2 separate regions of the Homo sapiens genome follow, and region 1 is linked to region 2. Evidence: fine-mapped expression QTL. A gene starts in region 2. The other region holds a variant in brackets. All regions are shown on one strand. Distances are between the middles of the regions.

Region 1 (9,956 bases), 52 kb after region 2:
TTTGACTGGATGGGGCTAAGCTCTGCAGATTCTATCTCCTTTATTACTTTCCTCCTTGAAGCAATCAAGGCAGTGATCCTGGTAAACCCTCTACCTCCTCAGTCTTCCCTTGGACAGGCTCTCCCAGGAGGTGGGTGATAGTGTGATGGTAGCAAGTCCATTGGGTCATCATATCCCAGCCATATTCCCCTAAAGAGGGTGTCCTTTCTGACCCCCTCAGACTCCAACCATTGTGATTTATGTCCAGTGATTCAGATGCCAGGTAATATGGTTTGATTCTGTGTCCCCACCCAAATCTCATCTTCAATTGTGCTCTCATAATTCCCACATGCTGTGGGAGAGACCCGGTGGGAGATAATTTGAATCATGGGGGAGGTATCCCCCATACTGTTCTCATGGCAGTGAATAAGTCTCACAAGATCTGATGGCTTTATCAATGGTTTCCACTTTGCATCCCTTCATTTTCTCTTGCCACCATCATGTAAGAAGTGCCTTTTGCCTCCTGCCATGATTCTGAGGCCTCCCCAGCCATGTCGAACTGTAAGTCCAATTAAACCTCTTTTTCTTCCCAGTCTCGAGTATGTCATTACCAGCAGCATGAAATTGGACTAATTCAGTAAATTGGCACCAGTGGAATCGGGTGCTGCTGAAAAGATACCTGAAAATGTAGAAGCAACTTTGGAACTGGGTAACAAGCAGAGGTTGGAACAGTTTGGAGGGCTCAGAAGAAGACAGGAAAATGTGGGAAAGTTTGGAACTCCGGAGAGACTTGTTGATTGCCTTTACCAAAATGCTGATAATGATATGAATGAAAAGGTCCAGGCTGAGGTGGTCTCAGATAGAGATGAGGAACTTCTTGGGAACTGGAGCAAAGGTGACTCTTGTTATGTTTTGGCAAAGAGACTGGTGGCATTTTGCCCCTGCCCTAGAGATTTGTGGAACTTTGAACTTGAGAGAGAAGATTTAGGGTACCCGGTGGAAGAAATTTCTAAGCAGCAAAGCATTCAAGAGATGACTTGGATACTGTTAAAGGCATTCAGTTTAAAAAGGGAAACAGAACATAAAAGTTCAGAAAATTTGCAGCCTGACTATGCAATAGAAAAGAAAAACCCATTTTCTGGGGAAAAATTCAAGCTGGCTGCAGAAATTTCCATAAGTAGTAAGGAGCCTAATGCTAATTCCCAGAACTATGGGGAAAATGTCTCCAGGGCATGTCAGAGACCTTCATGGCAGCCCCTCCCATTACAGGCCTGGAGGCCCAAGAGGAAAAAGTGGTTTTGCGGGCTGGGCCCTGGGTCCCTTGGCTGTGTGCATCCTAGGGACCTGGTGCCCTGTGTCCCAGCTGCTCCAGCTATGGCTGAAAGGGGCCAATGTAGAGCTCGGGCTGTGGCTTCAGAGGGTGGAAGCCCCAAGTCTTGGCATCTTCCTTGTGATGTTGAGCCTGCAACAGAAGTCAAGAATTGAGGTTTGGGAACCTCTGCCCAGATTTCAGAGGTTGTATGGAAACACCTGGATGCCCAGGCAAAAGTTTGCTGCAGGGGCGGGGCCCTCATGAAGAACCTGTGCAATAGCAGTACGGAAGGGAAATGTGGGGTCGGAGCCCCCATACAGAGTTCCTACTGGGGCACTGCCTAGTGGAGCTGTGAGAAGAGGGCTACTGTCCTCCAGACCCCAGAATGGTAGATCCACTGACAGCTTGGACCATGTTCCTCGAAGAGCCACAGACATTCAACGCCTGCCTGTGAAAACAGCTGGGAGAGAGGCCATACCCTGAAAAGCCACAAGGGTGGAGTTGCCCAAGACCATGAGAACCCACCTCTTGCCTCAGCGTGACCTGGACATGAGACCTGGAGTGAAAGGAGATCATTTTGGAGCTTTAAAATTTGACCGCCCCACTAGATTTTGGACTTGCATGTGCCCTGTAACTCCTTTGTTTTGGCCAATTTCTCCCATTTGGAATGGCTGTGTTTATCCAATACCTATACCCTCATTGTATCTAGGAAGTAACTAGCTTGCTTTTGAATTTACAGGCTTATAGGCAGAAGTGACTTGCCTTGTCTCAAATGAGACTTTGGACTGTGGACTTTTTGGTTAATGCTGAAATTAGTTAAGACTTTGGGGGACTGTTGGGAAGGCATGATTGGTTTTGAAATGTGAGGACATGAGATTTGGAGGGGCCAGGGGTGGAGTGATATGGTTTGGCTCTGTGTCCCCACTCAAATCTCATCTTGAATTGTACTCCTATAATTCCCATGTGTTGTGGGAGGGACCCGGTGGGAGATAATTTGAATCATAGGGACAGTTTCCCCCATACTGTTCTCGTGATAGTGAATAAGTCTCACGAGATCTGATGGTTTTATCAGGGGTTTCCGCTTTTGCATCCCTCTCACTTTCTCTTGTGGCCGTCATGTCGGAAGTGCCTTTCACCTCCTGCCATGATACTGAGGCCTCCCCAGCCACGTGGAACTCTAAGTCCAATTAAACCTCTTTTTCTTCCCAGTCTCGGGTATGTAGTTATCAGCAGCATGAAAACGGACTGGGGTATGAGCTTTCCATGAACTAAACACAGTCTACAATATGCATGTTTATTTAAGCTTGGATTTTTAAACAAAGCATTATGAAGAAAAAGTCTCAAAGGAAATACACCAAAACAATTAACAGTGGTTATTACAGGTTGAAAAGATTATGGGTGATTTTATTTTCTTCTGTGCTCATTTATATGTTCTAAAGTTTCTACAATGAAGTGCATTTTTGTTGTAGTATGGGAGAAAATTTTTGTTTCTCACTCCTTTGCCAAAAAAAAAAAAAAACACAAAAGGAAGAAGAAAAGAAAATCCTAAAAACAATAGATTTGCAACAACAAGACAAAGTTAACTACTCTGTGACTGAATTGCTGGAAGATGGGGAGCAGAGGTAGCGGGGAGGGGGAGAGAGGCAGGTGTCAGAGAATAAATGCCATGGCTGCCAGTTTGATTCGGGCCACTGTGATATCCTGGCCTAACAGTGCCCTGACACACCTGGTGTGCCTCACCCTGGTCTTTGCCAAGAGAGGTCACTTCCCTTTTTGTTTCTTGGTACAGCTATTAATGGTGGATTCTCCTGGAATGGCCTTCTTGGACTTTACCTGTCAGGGGGTCCTTACTGGAGCCTTATTTGTGACCAAATGATCTTGTTTTTCAGACCACAGCTGAGAAATCTCCTGGAGCCTATTTCCTTCCCGAGTTTGCACTTTCTCCTCAGGGAAGTTTTCTGGAAGACACAACAGGGGAGCAGTTCCTCACTTATCGCTATGATGACCAGGTAAGAACATTGGACAAGGATCTACCTTTGGCTTTGCTGTTTGCCAGTGGTCAGGAAACTGTCTCTAAAAGACCTTCAAAGTAATTATATTTTCCTCTTTGCAATACAAGTACAACAGACCCTTGACACCCTTGAAGGATCCCAGAATATGTGGATTGCCCATGTTTGCATGTAATTTCCTATATAATGTGCAGTTCTTTCTCTGCATTTGCATAAAAGTCACTTTTTCTTATTTTCATCAGAAATATATGATGGATTTGTTCATCTCAGCTATCACCACATTGATGATTCAATTCTGAAATTATCCAAAATTCTGTTTTCTGCTTATGTGTTACTTCTTTGCCCTCAGCTTTTACTTCATTTCTTTTACCAGCACCAATGTTGCATGCTTTTTTCCCCAAGATTACTTTTCAGAAAGGAACACAGTGTGAATGCCTGTGTGTGCATATGTCTGTGAGTGTGTGTGTGTGTGTGTGTGTGTGTGTGTGTGTTGAAATCATTTTAGGAAGGCTAACTAGAGAAGAAGGCCTTGCTTGGCTGACATGTGTAAGCTGAGCACTGGAAGTTGTGATTCCCTTCCATCCTCAATTCACCTTGATGCCATAATAGCATTTAAGATTATCCATCTTTGAAATCACTCACAACTTGGTGAAACAGAGAGTTTCAACTTTGCCTAATGCAAAGCTGGTAAAGCCTGAATTTATGGGGCAGTTGAGCAAACCAGGGTGGACTTTAAGATGATGTAGGGCCTGGGTGGATCTGGCAGACCTCAGCACCTGTAGGGCCCAAGTGAAGGTGAGGAGCTGGGGCAAGATCACCTTCCCATGGTACGTGATAGAGTGGAGGGAGATGGCCCAGTGACTGAGGCCAGCTGTGCTCTCCTCAGCTGTATAGCCAAAGGCCAGTGCATCCTGGTTTGATTTAGGTAAAGCCTAGTCAGAGTGCAAAAGACAGTACTCAAAAGGAACAGCTCTGAGAAATTCAGTCTGCCAACATGGGTAGATCCAAGATGTGACCACAGGGAGTAGGACCCTGTTCTGAGGGCTGGCTGGAGCTAGGCAGAGTGCTGGAGGTGGGCTGGGAGAAGGATGAAAGTCTTGCAGAGCATCAGTGGCTGATGCAGGACGGAGATTAGAGCATAGAGGGCAGGTAGAGGAGTCTGTTGCTCAGTCCTCTATCTCCCAGCTCAGGGGAAGACACTGCACACTCTCCATCCTTGAGGCTGCTGCTCAGTGACCTACCCTTGGTGGGCTTCATTCCAGAGCTGGGACTGGGGTGAAGGTCAGGGCTGTGACCCTCCAGACCGCTGTGGGCAGGGAGCCACACTGGTCATTGGGGCAAGAGTGGGATGAGACCAATTTCTTACTCAAAATGTCAACATTCAATCATATTTTCAAGTTACTTTAAAAGTGAGTGAGTGCATTACTAGTCATTGTGGGGAGCAGGGGTGGGCTGGGGAATAATTCTATATTTGCATTGTAGAGCCCAAACATTTGGGCCTGGTTGCTAATAGGGGCTAAAACATCATTAAGTCACTTTCTGCCTTCCCCCTTCCCTTGATGGATTTTGAGAGGGTCTATAATTTATAGCTCCTTTTAATCCAGAAATCAATAATCCAACAGGTTTTCATATGAGAACTTCAGAGGAACTAATTGAGAGGGCCGTAAAGGATAAAAGCGGGTGTCTGGAAAATACCAAGCTATGCATTTTATAATTAAAGAGTGGTTAATGTCTTCTCCAGGTTCCACAGATACTTTATATTTAACATAATAACAATATAAAAGCTGGGAAAAGGGGAAAACAAGCCCCTTCAGTCTTTTCAAAAGGTCTAAAGCAGATCTGAAAAGTGTGTGGCATGCTGTGGAAATTTCATCCTAGGACATAGT[G/A]TTCCAGAAAGCCTCAGTGACTAGCATATGAAAACACTCTGTGTTGCCCCCACTGTGTATTTCTTTTAGGAGAAAGGAATAATTTGAGACTATAACAAGCCAATAATAGCACCCACTTTCCTCTACTAAAGGCACAGAAAATAGGCGCTTGGACTAAACTAGGTTTATCTATTGAATGAACCTCAGGAATTTAATCAGCTAGAGACTGTTAACCCACCAACCAAATCCTGATTCTCTTTCCTCTTTTTTCTTTTCTTTTTTTTTGAGATTGGGTCTTGTTCTGTCACCCAGGCTGAAGTGCAGTGGCATGATCACAGCTCACTGCAGCCTCAACCTCCCCACCCACACTTAGGTGATCCTCCTGCCTCAGCCCCCGCCCCCCACCCCAGGTAGCTGGGATTATAGGCATTAGGCATGTACCACCACCCCTGGATAATTTTTTTTGTCTGTATTTTGTAGAAATGAGGTTTTGCTATGTTGACCAGGTTGGCCTCAAACTCCTGGGCTCAAGCGATCTGCTCTCCTCGGCCTCCCAAAGCGTTGGGATTACAGGTGTGAGCCACTGCGCCTGGCCAATCCTCTTTTTTCTTAATGCTGAACATGCTTCTCAGGCACTGGGGAAAGGATAAAACCAATCAAATACTATCAAACTTTTAAAAAATCCCCTGATCCTTCAGCATATGACAAAACATTAAGATCAATTAAGAACAAAGTCTCTGGAGTCAGACTGCTTTGGGTTTGAATTTGATTTGTCAGTTCTGCCATTTGATTTGCTGTTTTACTTTGGACAAGTTACTTTACTTCCCTGTCCCTTAATTTTCTCATCTATGAAATGGAGATTTGGATGGTATCTACCTTATGTAGGCGTTAATTCATGTCTCCCTGCATAGGGCCTGGTACATATAAGCATTTAATTTAGCTATTGTTATTACTAAGAATGTTGTTTGCAAACACTCAATTCAAAGAATCTCAGATATGCTTATGCTAAAAGAAAGGAAGAAGTTAATTCTTACTTTAGGAGATCTCATGCAATATTTTCAATTAATTTTTTATTGAGCTATAACATATGTAAGTAAAACGCATACATATCTGAAGTATAGAGCTTGATGAATTTTTAAGTATTTTTACACCTGTGTAGTTGCTACCTAGATCAAGAAAATGAACATTTCTAGCACCCTAGGAGGCTCCTTGAACCTCTTTCCGATCAATATCCCACATTCAAGAAGTAACCACCATTCAGACTTTTATCAGTATTACAGATTCATTTTGCCTGCTTTTAATTTTATTTTTGATTTTATATAAATGGAATCATACACCACATACTCGTTTGTGTCTGGCTTCTTTCACACATCATTATGTCTGAGAGATTCAACCCAGTTGCTGGATCCAACATAATATAGGGTTTAATGTCTAGCAGCCAGTTGTACTCTTTGGAACAAATTGTCTCATGTTGGAACAAATTGCAGCATACTGGGTGGCATGCAGCATTACTCTTGCACAGAAATTCCCAGGTTGTCCCTAAAAGGTTTTCAGAGCAGTCTCTCCAAAGATTTCATACCTGGGGAAATGGTGGGGACAGTTTTCCAGTGTAGCCTTTGTTATATGCCAGCAGCCACCGGCATTCCACAGCCAGAAGTAGGTACAGGGTCTGTGTGAGTGGCTGCCAGGGCAGAACCTGTGTCAGGTGGCATGGGTACCTACCTGTGGAATCTCCATATATATATGCCAGGGGTGCTGTCCTGCTGTCACAGTGGCTTGAAGCCAGAGTGACAAAGTACTTATGCAATTGAGGCTGCAGCCTAGTTTCTAATGCTGTTGGGTCAGATGTGGGTTCACTAGGATCTTCCTACCTATAGAGTACTCATTTGATAAAATGGGATGCAAATGGATGGTGTGTAGATATTTGCTGTCTTGGATGAACCTCACAGGACTTTTTAAAGTGTTTTATCCTGGGCGCATTTCATGAAGACCTTCAGGTCATTCTTCAAATGTCTCCTGGGTTAGATGCCTGGAAAACTAATAACCCTGAGGCCAGTAACACATAGCTGTGATGTAGGCTGCATTTAATGGGAGGCGTAAAAGCCACATTATGGATCATACGGAGGGCCGCGGCAGCTTCTAGTGAAGAAAGTGGTCTGAAGCCAACTGAGTAACAATGTGGTTTAGTGCAAACAGGACTAGTCAGGCAGCCTGGTCTTGCTTCTACCACTAATCAGCTTATAATCTAACAGAACTATTTAACGTTTTGGACTTTGGATTCTTTATTTCTTTTAAAAAACAAAGTGACTGGATTTCATGATCTGAACTCTTTCCACTCTAAAATAGTCTGAAACTACAAATAGAATATTCCACGTTGCAGAGTGTTAATTGGATCATTCTGATTATTGAGGCAGTCTTGCCAGCAATTCGGTAAACTATTACTTAGAGAATTATACAGTTTTACAGCTGGTGGAGACTTTGGCCCAAGTGCCTCATTCTACAAGTCAAGAAAACAGAGACGCCAAATGTGCAAATGACTTACTCAAGGACACCCGTGGTTATTTGAAAAACTAAGACCATTACACTCCAAACCCAAGGCTCTCCTGCTCTGAGATATATCCAGGAGCTTCTCTCAGAAGAACCACCTAGAAAATTATCTCCTATCCTAAAAATCCTGATTCCACTGTTTACAGTTAGTAGAGCTTTGGGGATCTTAATAGACCCCAGAGATTAAGATTAAGATTAATGGATGCCTTATCAGCTCATTCTCATCTCCTTCAGGAATTTGGAATTAGCTATGTGGAGAACATTCATAAGCATATTTATTCCTTTCCAGTTTTTAATAGAAGCCACAATTTTTTTTTGAAGCTTGAGTGAAACATTAACTGAAATTAAAATGGCACTGACTTTCTATTGGATGGGCACATTCTTAGAATAAAGGTGTTCTAGCACTTGGTTGCATCAGGTACATGAAGTAGCTAGAATGTATTAGTTTGGGACGACTGGCTAAGAAGGCTGTGGTTTCAGTTACTAGCCAGCCTGTCTCTGGGGTAGATTCTTTGGTCATTCCTCATAGTGGTTTTGGAGTTTTGTCCCATAGAGGACCTGTTCATAGGCAAACAGCTGGATATTGGTCACTGCACATGGTTCTTTTCATCGCTGAGTAAGTCAGTTTTTGGAGATCTGCTCTGTCTTTCTCTGCCTAGATCACCTTCTGGGAAAGGGGGATGGTGTGGTTGTTTTCCATCCTTACCTTGCTTCAACTCACTGAAGATTTAAACTTGGAGCTTTATTATGGTCACTGAAAGCCTGTGACAAGCACAGTGTTTCTCAGTTAGAGGTCATTTATTTTTTAAGGAGTTAGGAAAAGTTGTTTTTTGCATAAATATTCTTTTATTTCTCTTTATTTTTAGCATTTGTTAGGCATGGGGGAAGGTGGAAGGTGTGTCCTCCCAGACTTGGTGGATTTGCTGTAATGTGCTTCCTCCTCACTGGCAGCCATCGTAGGATAAAGGACATTAAGCACGAGCAGTAGGTGACTTAGAAATTGGGCCTCATGCACACTTTCCTATGTTTTATGAATTCTTTATGTGTGTACCTGTTAATATTAATATAGGGTATTAAAATAATGCTGACCTTGCCACTTTTAGTCTACTAGGCACCAAAAGGCAGGAAAAAAGGTTAATACCTTGGATTCCAAGCATGTAGGACAAGTAGTGGGTTTTGATTTTCCTAAAATTAACCAAGGATAATCCCACTAATGCAAGCTCGAAGCCATTTAGAGAACTACCTTGATCTCATGTTGGAGAGGTCCTTTTATACCTATTCATACCAGGCCATCCCTTCTCCCTGGTAAACTTCCTGCTCCTCTGCCCTTGACTAATTTAGCGTTTGCTGTGTCTCTTCCTGACCACATTTAAGAGGATTTGAGATTTTTTTCCAGACTTAAAAATGCTTTTGCCTGTACTCTCATCTACCATTGCTTTCAGTGACCACTTGGTTTTCAAATTCTTACTGTCTCTTGCTGCTTTCTGCTACTCATTCTGCTACTCATTTTTAACCTTTAAAATCTAACTTCTTCTATGTCCTCCAACCTCCCTCCCCCCACCACCTTCAACAGGCATCCTTTTTAAGAATTTCAGTTACTTTCTTCAAGTCACACCTATATTCTGGTATGAATCAGCCTATATTTGTAAAAGTCTGTGTTGGTACAATTCCATGTTTGTAAAGTCCTAAGGCCTTAATGACATCATAGGTGAAGTCATAGTTGACTCTTCTCTTTCCTTCCTGGGATGTCATTGGCTGCCTATTTGTATGATTCCTTGTTTCAATATGCCTCTCTAAATTGTATTTTCTTTACTGTTTCCATCCCAAAGGAGGCAGAGGGCTGGATGTGCAGCCTTGGTAGCATCTGGAATTGTATTAATAGCATGTCAGAGTTGAAAGAAAGTATAGGATTCTGGCTTTTCAGGTGAGGAATCTGAGCCCCGGAGAGGAACAGTGTCTTGTCCAAGATCACACAGCCAGGCAGTAGCAAAGCCAAGTGCCCGTTCTTTGCCCTTAAGCTCAGTTAAGACATTTTTACATCTAATCTGTGGGCAGGAAAAGTATGAGAGAAATGTTTGAATGAATTTTTAATACTAATAATAACAATAATATATTAATAATGAAGTCTGTGTAGTCTTATTTCTAAACTTCTTTTAAATGCCTTTTTTCTTATACTATTATGATAAACATAATTTTCCTTTTCCTCGTTTAACTATTGATTTATGCATTCTTTCTAAAGAGGAG
Region 2 (9,956 bases):
AAGAAGGACCCACTCTGGTCAGAAAACCATCAGTGCTAGCTGAGCATATTTCCTGTGTGGGACTAGGGATACGTCCTGAAAACCAGGCATGGTAGATGCCGTTGGAGAGGATGCCCTGTCCGATTTCTTTACCAGCAGGCACACCTATCCCCAGCATATATTTGGTGCAGCAGCTAAAGGCTTACAGCTGATACATTCCTGGAGCATTGTCCTTGGCCACAGGGAGCCACCTTGGAGGTTATACCACCATATACCACCACCCAGCTCCAGTGGAGGCAGTGACTTACTGGCACCCGGGTCAGCAGTTGGTCCTGGTGCTTCAAGTCACGGCAAATCTATGGTGTGGTTTCTGTTCCAGGATCCCCGAGGATCACATGAAGGTTAGGCTTGACCTCAGTCACAGCTTGCTCTAGTCTTGCGCCTTACCTATCCTGCTTCCCTCACTCCTTCATAGGTTTTTCCTGAAGAACACTCGCTAGCTAATTTTGTGCCCCTAAGGCACTATGTTCACCTAACATCCAGATGTGTTCTTTTTTTTTTTTTTGAGATAGAGTCTCGTTCTGTTGCCCAGGCTGCAGTGCAGTGGTGTGATCTCAGCTCACTGCAACCTCTGCCTCCCAGTTCAAGTGATTCTCCTGCTTCAGCCACCCGTGTAGCTGGGACTACATGTGCACGCCACCATGTCTGGCTAATTTTTGTATTTTTTAGCAAAGATGGGGTTTCACCATGTTGGCCAGGCTGGGTTCGAACTCCTGACTTCAAATGATCTGCCCGCCTCGGCCTCCCAAAGTGTTGGGATTACAGACATGAGCCACCGCACCTGGCCCCAGATGTGTTATCTCTTAGTGGCCTTGGCTGAGAGTGTATCTTTGGTGTCTGCTGCAGTCAATGGTAACTTCTATTGGAGTACTTGCCTCCAAGTACTCTTTTTCTCCAAGCCTCCAACACAGCGTTCTTGAGTGTGCTTCCCAAGCCCACTTCACAACTCTGTAACCAGAAAGAGCATTTCTGTTTCAAGAACAAATTAAGGCTGATGCCTGAATTGATATTCCTTGTCTCTAAGGGTAAAACCTAAACACACCCCAACACCACCATCATCAATAGTTCCTTTCCTGATCTTCAATGTGTATCTCTCACGTGAATGTTGTACTGTGTGCTTGTTGGGTTGAGGTCAACAGGCAAAGCTGGGAGCAGGCAAAGCTGGGAGCGCGGGCAGGAATCTCTGAAATTCATCTAGGAAGAAGCAGGTCCTGAGACAGGTAGTGAAAGCCAGGAAGCCAAGAAGTTGGATCTTAGGGAGGAAATGGAACTCAGTTTCCTCGACCCTTCAGAGTCTAAATGCATTGCCATTGTCCCCAGGTGGTGGGTGTTCTCACAGGGAGGAAGTCCAGGAAGTAGGCAGGGAGGGGCCTGAACCTCCCCAGATAGTGATTGGGTAGGTGGCTACACTCAACAGCCAAATCAGCCAGATTAGCTGCTTTGGGGTTTATTCATTCCTGTTCTTCCCAATTCCTGATCTCCCACCACACCATGCCTTTGGCAATGTCTTATTTAAACATTTGGGCCAAGCCTCAGGTGAGGAAGTAAGGATGGGAGGGAAGTGTGGGTGAGTGACTGAGGGAAGGGGTGAGGGAAGAGGTGACTGAGGGGTGGTGAGGCCATGATTCTGCGCATAACATCTGTGAAGTCCAGCCAGCACCCCCAGTGGAGGCTGTCCTCTGCAGCTCTTTGTTGTCCTAACTTACAGTACCTTGGCCACTCACACAGGTTTGCTTGACCTGCTAGGGTTAACTGGAAGGCAAAAGTTCTATAAAGGTATTGGTGATGTTTTCTCTACTACTTTTCGCTACTGGAACACCTGCTCTTTGAGGGGGCTGGCCTCCTGCTAGATGGAACCTGTGGGAGAGAAAGGCTCAGTCCTGGTCTTAGTACTTGGTGTGGGGCACTCCTTGGAGGCTGGCTCAGGAGTCAGATTGCCCAAGGGAGATGAGACAGGAAGTCCTGCTGAGCCATTAATACCTTAAAACAGAGCAGTGCATCTCAAATGTTCCCAGCAAAGTCCCCCAACTCCAGAGGCATTCTCAGTGACTTCTTGAGTTGCAGACACCGGGAGCTCTGCTTAATGCAGCCACCACTGCACAAGCATAATATTTCTTTGAATTCTCCATTTCATCTTGCATATTCATGTGACTTTTTTGCATTTGACTCCATGATATGGTGGGGCTAGTTTTAGAATATGAACGATGAGGAGTGGTATCGTCTAGTTGCTAAGAACATGAGGTATTTAAACCTTTCCACTTCAGTTTCCTCATTTGCAAAATGGGAATAAAAATAATATCTACCCCATAGGCTGTTGTGATGATGGGATGACTCGGTATAAGCAAAGTATCTGGAACAGTGCCTGCCACATCCTAAGTGTTTTGAATGTTAATGTGGCTATTCCTTTACTGATACTCTGATATGAGAAGCACGAAAAATCAATTCTCATTATTTGCAGATTCCTTATTGTGAATTCAGCTACTGGGTAAAATTTATTTGTCACCTCCGTTAAATTAAGTTTAGCCTAAAGTTGCCTTCTTACATATTTTAAGTTCGGCCTAAAGGTCTCTCTGTACATAGTAAACTGTAACCTGATGATGTGTAAACAGACTGTAACCTACTCTTGAAGCAGTCACAGAGTTTTGGCCAATCACAGGCGGTCAACTGTTTAAACCATGTTTAAATAAGGCAAATGCCGAGCTGTAACCAATCCAGCTGTTTCTGTACCTCATTTCCGTTTTCTGTTCATCATATTCCGTTTTCTATCCATAAATATTATCTGACTATGTGGAAGCCCCAGAGTTGCTCTGAATCTATTTTGTTTTGGGGCTGAGGGGGGCTGCCCTATTTTCAAATTGTTCTTTGCTCAATTAACCTCTGTTAAATTTGTCTAAAGTTTTTATTTTAACACCTCATAATCAATAGCTGCAGCACTTTCAAAGTCATTGAACCAGTGCTGAACGTTTTGAGTCTCTTGAGACACATGTTGGAAGCTAAGGTCCAACCAGTCAACCCTCTGTCTTCTTGTTTCAGCTTTCACACTGTAAATGAGTGGCCCAAAAGTTCTCTTCATTGCCATGTTTTCACATTTTTTTGGTCTTTTTTTTGATGATTTTGCTGCTTAAAGCACCCCCCAGGCACAGTGCTGAAGTGAAGTCTAGCGTTCCTAAGTGGAAGAAGGCTGGGATGTGTGTTGCAGAGAAAATACGTAAGTTAGATAAGCTTCATTCAGGCATGAGTTACAGCACTGTAGGCTGTGAGCTCAGTGTTCAGGAATCAACAATAGATGTTAAGTAAGGCGTCTTTAAACAGAAACATGCATAAAATAAGGCAATGTGTTGATTGATTGACAAAAATATTGTGAGCTTGCAGGAACCCAACTCTATATTTCCCCTAGGAACAATGGCTCCATATTCACAAATTCGTTGTTCTGTGACTTTATAGACCACAACTACAGTAAATAAAAAGGATCGATTGTCCATAGATGAGTTAGTTCTAGTTTAGCCCAGCCCTCCCTACCCTTCACTGGCTACTCTTACCTCTCCTGTCTCCACACTGACCTGTCCTCTGCTCACTTGCCACAAGTCCAATCATTTTACATAGAGTGGAGAGACAGCCTTGAAGATCCTCTTCTTGGTCAGAGGAAGTCACCAGAGTAAGTAAGGGAAGAATGAGTGAGGAAAGCAGGCAGGGCCAATTGCTCTTGGCAAAGCTCTAGCAGTAACCGGAACGCAGCAACCACAGAGAAGGCAGGAGAACAACTTTAGGGGTGAACAGTCCAGGCTCTAGAGAGAGGCAGATAGGGGTTCCAGTCCTGGCTTCTCCACTCATGGTGGGCAAGTTATCCTCCCAGCCTCAGATTTATCCTAGGTGAAATGGGATAATGCTCGAACTACTGCTGCTGTGAAGATCAGATAGACACAAAGAGCTTGGTACTCGACAGACACCCAAGGAAATGGCGACTGTGGTAGGACTTAGGTGGGGGCATAATGCAGCCTTTAAGATCAATCTCCTGGCCCTTGGCTTATCCTGCTGGGACTAGGACAAGGACAGGGACAAACATTTCCTTTTACTTCTCCTCACCTCCAGAAGTACACAGGCAACTCACCCCAGTCTCTTGTCCGCGACACTCTTCCCCCCAACCCCAAATCCCAGGCCTGGACACGGCATGATTCTGGCACCTGTGGAGCTCTCAGTTCCCCAAGCCCGGCTCAGACAAGGAGGCGCCAGGTACCCAGTTAAGAGGCGCTCCTGCAAGATCCTCGTGGTCCCTGGCTGCCAAAGGTCCCAGGCCTCTGGGCAGTGAGCGCTCCACAGTCCCTTGTGTGGCGTCTATGCTGCGCGGAGGAGGCGCAGGCCAGGAGAGGGCCATTGGTCTCCACTATGGTCCTGCCTGGCCAGGAGTGCCTATGGCTCTTAGGCACGAGCCAGCGGTTCCGGGCAAACCTCTGTGTGGCTGCTGGGCCTGACTTTGCAGAGCTGGCGCCCGGGTCTGGGCGGGGTGGGTGGAGGCTATGGGAGGTGGGGCCGGGGGTGGGCTCGGGGGGAGCGACGGCATCCCTGCTCCGGCTCCGGCTGAGGCGGGGCGGCCAGGCTGGCTTGCGGCGCAGCGGCCGCCTTTCCCCAGTGCGCCTGCCGGCGGCGGCGGTGGCGGCGTCGGCAATCCCGGCTCTTGGCACAACGCCTGGCGGCCGGCCCAGGGCGAGGAGTGGCTTCCAGGAAGCGGGCGGAGGAGCGTTCCAGCCGAGTCCCGCCGTCGCCGCGGCCCCGCGCGCTCCGAGCGGCCCGGGCCTGGCCCCACACGGCGTCTCTTCGCGCCCCCGGCGCCTCCAGCTCAAGCCGAGGGCGCGGTGCCGGCGCGCAGGCTGACGGGCGCCTGGGCGCGCCGTGCACTTGCCGGGCGGTGCAGGTGGCGGCGCGCGCCCTCCGCCTCTGGGCCGGGGCCAGCGCAGCGCTCTGCGCGCCCGGAGGGGGCGGGAGAGGCGGGGCAGCCCCCGTCCCAGCCCCATTTAACTTCGCGGCGGCGGCGGCGACTGCGGCGCCGCGGGCTGGAGGCCGGCGTCGGGGAAGGTCCTGGTGCCGGATTCCGCACGAGGTGTTGACGGGCGGCTTCTGCCAACTTCTCCCCAGCGCGCGCCGAGCCCGCGCGGCCCCGGGGCTGCACGTCCCAGATACTTCTGCGGCGCAAGGTGGGTGCACCGAGCTCGGCGCAGGGCGGCCCCTCAGGGGTCGGGGGAAGGCGCTCCCCAGAGGGAGTAAGACTTGGAGCAGTGGCCTCTCTAAGCAAGTTGGGGGTCTCCAAGCAGAGTCGGGGCGTGCCACGCGGGCCCCAGGGGGCCTCAGGACTGGGGTGCTCCTCACTGCTGGGCACCTCGGGTCGGGCGCGCTTCGTGCCGTCCCGGAAGGTTCAGGGAGAGTCTTTCGGCGGCAGTTCGCGGGCTGAGGGGCGTTCTTGATTATGGGGGAACTCCACAGGGTTGGAGTTTTTCAGGATTGGGAGTTACTAAGCAGAAACCTCGCGGGTCCGAAGGTCCGGCCGGTTGACCACTGGGTAGCGAGCGCCCAGAACGCCGGGGGTTGAGGCGACGCGCGATCGTGGAAAGTGGGCGTGGGGGTGACCGGGACGCGGCGGAGGCACTGGAGGAGCGACTTCGAGGCAGCGGGTAGTCGGAGGAGTGTGCACTCGGAAGGCTGGTGCGAGCAGGCGAGGGTGGCGCAGAGTCCCAGGGCCCCGCACTGGCCGCCTCCCTTCAGCCAGGAGTCGCCGCCTCAGGTCGGAAACAGCAGCACATTTGCGGATCACATTAGACCAGGCCCTTAATGCCTTCTCCAGATGGAGAGAAGCCACCGACCCGCCCCCGGACACCAGCTCCGCCAAGGCGCCCGCGAGGCGAAGCGGGAGTCGAGTGTGACCTCGGCTTTTCCAGTCTCGACTCATACTGATTTCCCTGTAAATTGACAGGAAAAGTAAGGGAAAAAGTCCCCGCTTCCCTCCTGGTTTCAGCTGACCTCTGCTGGCTGGCCCTCACCTACTTTTAGGAGATTGTGTTAGGCTGGCTCAGGGGCTGTGTCCTCCAAACCTCCCTGAACTTAGCTCTCAGGCGTCTCTCTGGGTGTGGGTCCCGGACCTCGAGGGCGCACGGTGTCATCTAGCGAGGAAAGCCTTGAACTATCAGAAGATCTGCGTTTCAGCCCTAAAATGTCACTATCTTGCTGTGTGACCTTAGGCAGGTCCTTTCCCTCTCTGGGCGGCTTTGTTGTCTTAGACTCATTTTTGCCGCGAGCAGCAGAAGCTAGCCTAAACCTTGGCTCTGTGCTGGCTTCCTGAGTCAAATGCCAATAGCGACACCCTGCTGCTGACAGATAGGCTTGGGCAGGGATATCTCAGCTTCTGAAGAGCTGGAGGTATGAGATGCCCACTGGAGACAGGTCCAGCCCTCGCCTGACTTTGTTGTGGACCTTCTAAAGGGAGCCCAGTTAGCCTGCACCCTGCAGTAGGCAGCGGCAACCTGGGCCAACACAAACCTTTCCAAAATAGTATATGGGCTTCAGGGTCCCTCCATCTAATGGGTCGCTTAAGTCACGGTTTACTGCCATGGGGGCCAGAGCTGGTTGGTAATGAACTCTTTCCTCGTTTGTAGGCTACAACTGAGACCCGGAGGAGACTAGACCCCATGGCTTCCTGGACGAGCCCCTGGTGGGTGCTGATAGGGATGGTCTTCATGCACTCTCCCCTCCCGCAGGTAAGGTCATATAGGGAGGGGAAGGGAAATGGTGGACATCCCTCTGTTTACTCAGAGGCATTATTGTATACCACCTAAGATGTGGCATGATTAGTGTTAATCCTACACCAGAGAACCAGACTTTCTTTCCTATCTCTAGCCAATGGTATTTCTGGTTGGCTTAGCTGTAAGGATTATCCAGATCCCTTGGGTCCTCTCTGAATCCTGAGTAGGGCTTTAATAGCACTGTGGATACCATACACCGGTGATGACCTGGGGCTGTGATGGACCCTGTCATTTCAGACTAGAATGGCTGTCTGCATGTGCCCAGCAGAGGCTGGGTTGCTGGAGACCAGGAAACAATGGGCAGAGCCAGGTTCTGGCCCTAGCTAAGCTGCTAAATAAATATTCTGAGTTTACATCTATCATCACATATCCCACTGTTTTATCCCACAGTCCTCTCTTTAGACTTCTGCTGTCTTTTCCAACCAACTTGAGAGGACCCGGCTCATGAATTGCATCTTTATTTGCCTAAAGGACAGACTCAAACAAAGGAATGAGGCTAGCATTGCCTAAGAGACAATAGAGAGTAACGGAGACAGTGGCAAAGTGCAGAACGCGTGCTCCATCTATTAAGAGCAGTCTCTACTCAATTCCATCTGATCGTTGCTAAGTGGAGACATAAGCCCAGGATTGCCAGATCTTATTTTTCAAGATAGCTGGATCATCTAGACTTCTTACAAAATTTCCCAGTTTTTAAAGTATTGAAAGGCAGATAAATGTGTTTGCAGCCTGGATTCAGCCAAGCAGTTTGCAGCCCCAGATCTAAAGGCAGGGCACATCTTAGTATTGTGTCCCAAGGGCTGCTGCTAGCTCCATACAGTGTCTTATGAATTAGAACAAGGCAATCCCTCCCTGCAGACATAGCTTCTCAAATACATGGCTTGGTGGCCTGTGTACCCTCAGGGTCTCGGAAGGGACTTGTCACTTAAGGGCTTAAATGTCTGTTAAATAAACATGCATCCATGAATGAAGATATATACCCTGGGATAAATTAATCAGACTCCTCTGCCTCTTGTTTCACTTTCTTGGACTTAGTGCCTCTAAAGCCTCTTTTGGCTCCAATGCCCTGTGAATTCTGTGATGCACAAAGAACTGGTCAGCAAGGTACATCTTCTCCCCACTATCCCATTTTATCGATACTATCCCATAATCATATTAATAGAGCTCTTTTGTTAGAACAAAAGTTAAGTCTTTTCAGGATGATGTTAGGGTTCTCTGGCCAGCGAGATGACTGTTGAGGTAAAAGCGTGGAGACTTACGTTTCTGTCTCATCAGCGGATCTGAAACAGGCTTTGAGAGCTTCAGAGATTTGTTCCTGGTCAAATGGGGCTGAGGCTTCAAGGCACAGTGTTCATTTTGCCTTCTTTCACCTTATAAAATTTAAATATGCTTTGAGGCAGTCTGTTGACCTTTGGCCAAGGGCAGTGTTTGCCCAGCTTGAATCACTCACTGACCTCTTTTGGATTTTTCCATATCTGTGTGCCTGTGGCAGTGCTGTTTCCATGTATCCAGGCAGTGTGCATAGAAGGTCATAAAAGGAGATTTCAGACCAGCAGTCTTCATCATTCACGCCACTCACTGTTCGGATCCCAGCTCTACCACTTCATTACTGTGTCACGCAAACGTCTCTGCATCGCATCTCAGTTTTCACATCTATACAGAGGAGATAATATTAGTATAGACCTCAGAATTGTTTGGAAGAGTTAATCCATTGTGAAGTGGAAAAAAGTGAAAAACCAAACCAAACAATGTCTGGCACATAGTAAGTGTACAATAAATGTCAGCATTCTGCTGTTGCTGCTGCTTGTCAGCATTAGAAGCTTGAAGCAAGCGCAGTGCCTGTATTTTCTGGTGTAGAGCCTGTAGGGGGCACTCAAGAGGTATCAGCTGTGGAGGGCCTGATCTTCAGGGAGTGTGGGTGGGCATGGCTAGGTCTGTCTCACCAGAGGCCCTGAGAAAAGGTTCTAATGAAGGGTGGTAGGTCAGCCCTGTGTCCCTGTCCGTGGGTTGGATGCTCTGTTTTTTCCGTAGGGTCAGCCTGGGTTTGACTCAAGGCCGCCCTTTCTGAAGTATCTTGTGATTTTGGTGTTTGGGTGGGGCTTAAGGTGTTCCCTGGCGTCTACCCTTGCTTCGTATGTGCTGCCACCAAGGTGGTTGTTAGAAAACTGCTAGATGTGTGAGGCTGAGCTGTGAGGAGCAAGGGATGTGCCAACTAATTAATAACAAATAGAGTTTCCTTTCTTTTCTTTTCTTTTGAGACATGGTTTCACACTGTTGCTCAGGCTAGAATGCAGTGGCATGATCTCAGCTCACTGCAACCTCTGCTTGCTGGGTTCAAGCAATTCTCGTGTCTCAGCCTCTGAGTAGCTGGGACTACAGGCGCACACTACCACATCCAGCTAATTTTTGTATTATCGGTAGAGATGAGGTTTTGCCATGTTGGCCAGGCTGGTCTCGAACTCCTGACCTCAAGTGATCTGCCCACCTCGGCCTCCTAAAGTGCTGGGATTACAGATGTGAGCCACTGCGCCCGTCCACAAATATATTTTCTTTATTGAATCAGCTAAAATGTAAACTCTTATATTCACTGCCCACAAATAATTGTGAGAGATTGTAGAACAAGGTAAGAGGCTGGTAGTTCCTTGTTTTTGTAACTCGTTCTTGACCATTCCTCGAGGAGCTCACTGTTCCCCTCATCCAGGCAGCTGGAGCGGCCTCCCCTCTTCCTGTCTCACAGGCCCTGGAAGCTTCCTGTTGCTCCAGGCTTCTCCTTAGGGATCTGATTTTCCCAGAGAAGACAGCAGCTGCTGTTCCTACTCTCTCTTCCAGCCTGGAGTATTTGAAAGCTTTTCAAACTTTATCCAGCCTGGAGTATTTGAGAGCTTTCCAAACTTTATCTAGCCTGGAGTATTTGAGAGCTTTCCAAACTTTATCCTGAACACCTTGAAGATGAGTCCTGTGTTGACTGTGCCCTGAATTACAACGTGCCCCCCCTTTTTTTTCTCTTGCCCATGAGAAGAATAAACAGCCTTATCTGTTCACTAATTTAATTGTCATAGGATGGCTTCCTAGCTCTCTGGCCAAGTGCCTTTAGAAACTGTTTTAACATTGGTCATGTGGCTTGCGATTATC

Direction of the effects. Positions count from the first base shown, and alleles are read on the strand shown. Sizes are in standard deviations (SD) of each study's normalised expression.
With allele G in place of A in region 1, the expression in aorta of the gene that starts at base 5,075 in region 2 is higher (moderate effect, 0.72 SD a copy in GTEx).

The links. PIP is the estimated chance that this variant, and not a neighbour inherited with it, causes the effect.
Region 1: its variant is fine-mapped to the expression of ADAMTSL3 in aorta (GTEx, PIP above 0.99). The same link has a PIP of 0.9 or more in cerebellum and tibial artery.

What each region holds. Positions count from the first base shown.
Region 1 is chr15:83,701,209-83,711,164 of GRCh38, forward strand. It overlaps ADAMTSL3 (ADAMTS like 3), which reads left to right. Exons shown (of 30, transcript NM_207517.3): 3 at 3,181-3,300. Among named protein-coding and RNA genes, the nearest start is that of ADAMTSL3, 52 kb to the left of the region's middle. RefSeq lists enhancers at 6,997-7,166, 8,854-9,023. The variant G/A (reference allele first, on the strand shown) is at 5,187.
Region 2 is chr15:83,649,049-83,659,004 of GRCh38, forward strand. It overlaps ADAMTSL3 (ADAMTS like 3), which reads left to right and starts at 5,075. Exons shown (of 30, transcript NM_207517.3): 1 at 5,075-5,228; 2 at 6,681-6,782. The coding sequence starts at 6,714. RefSeq lists an enhancer at 3,544-3,713.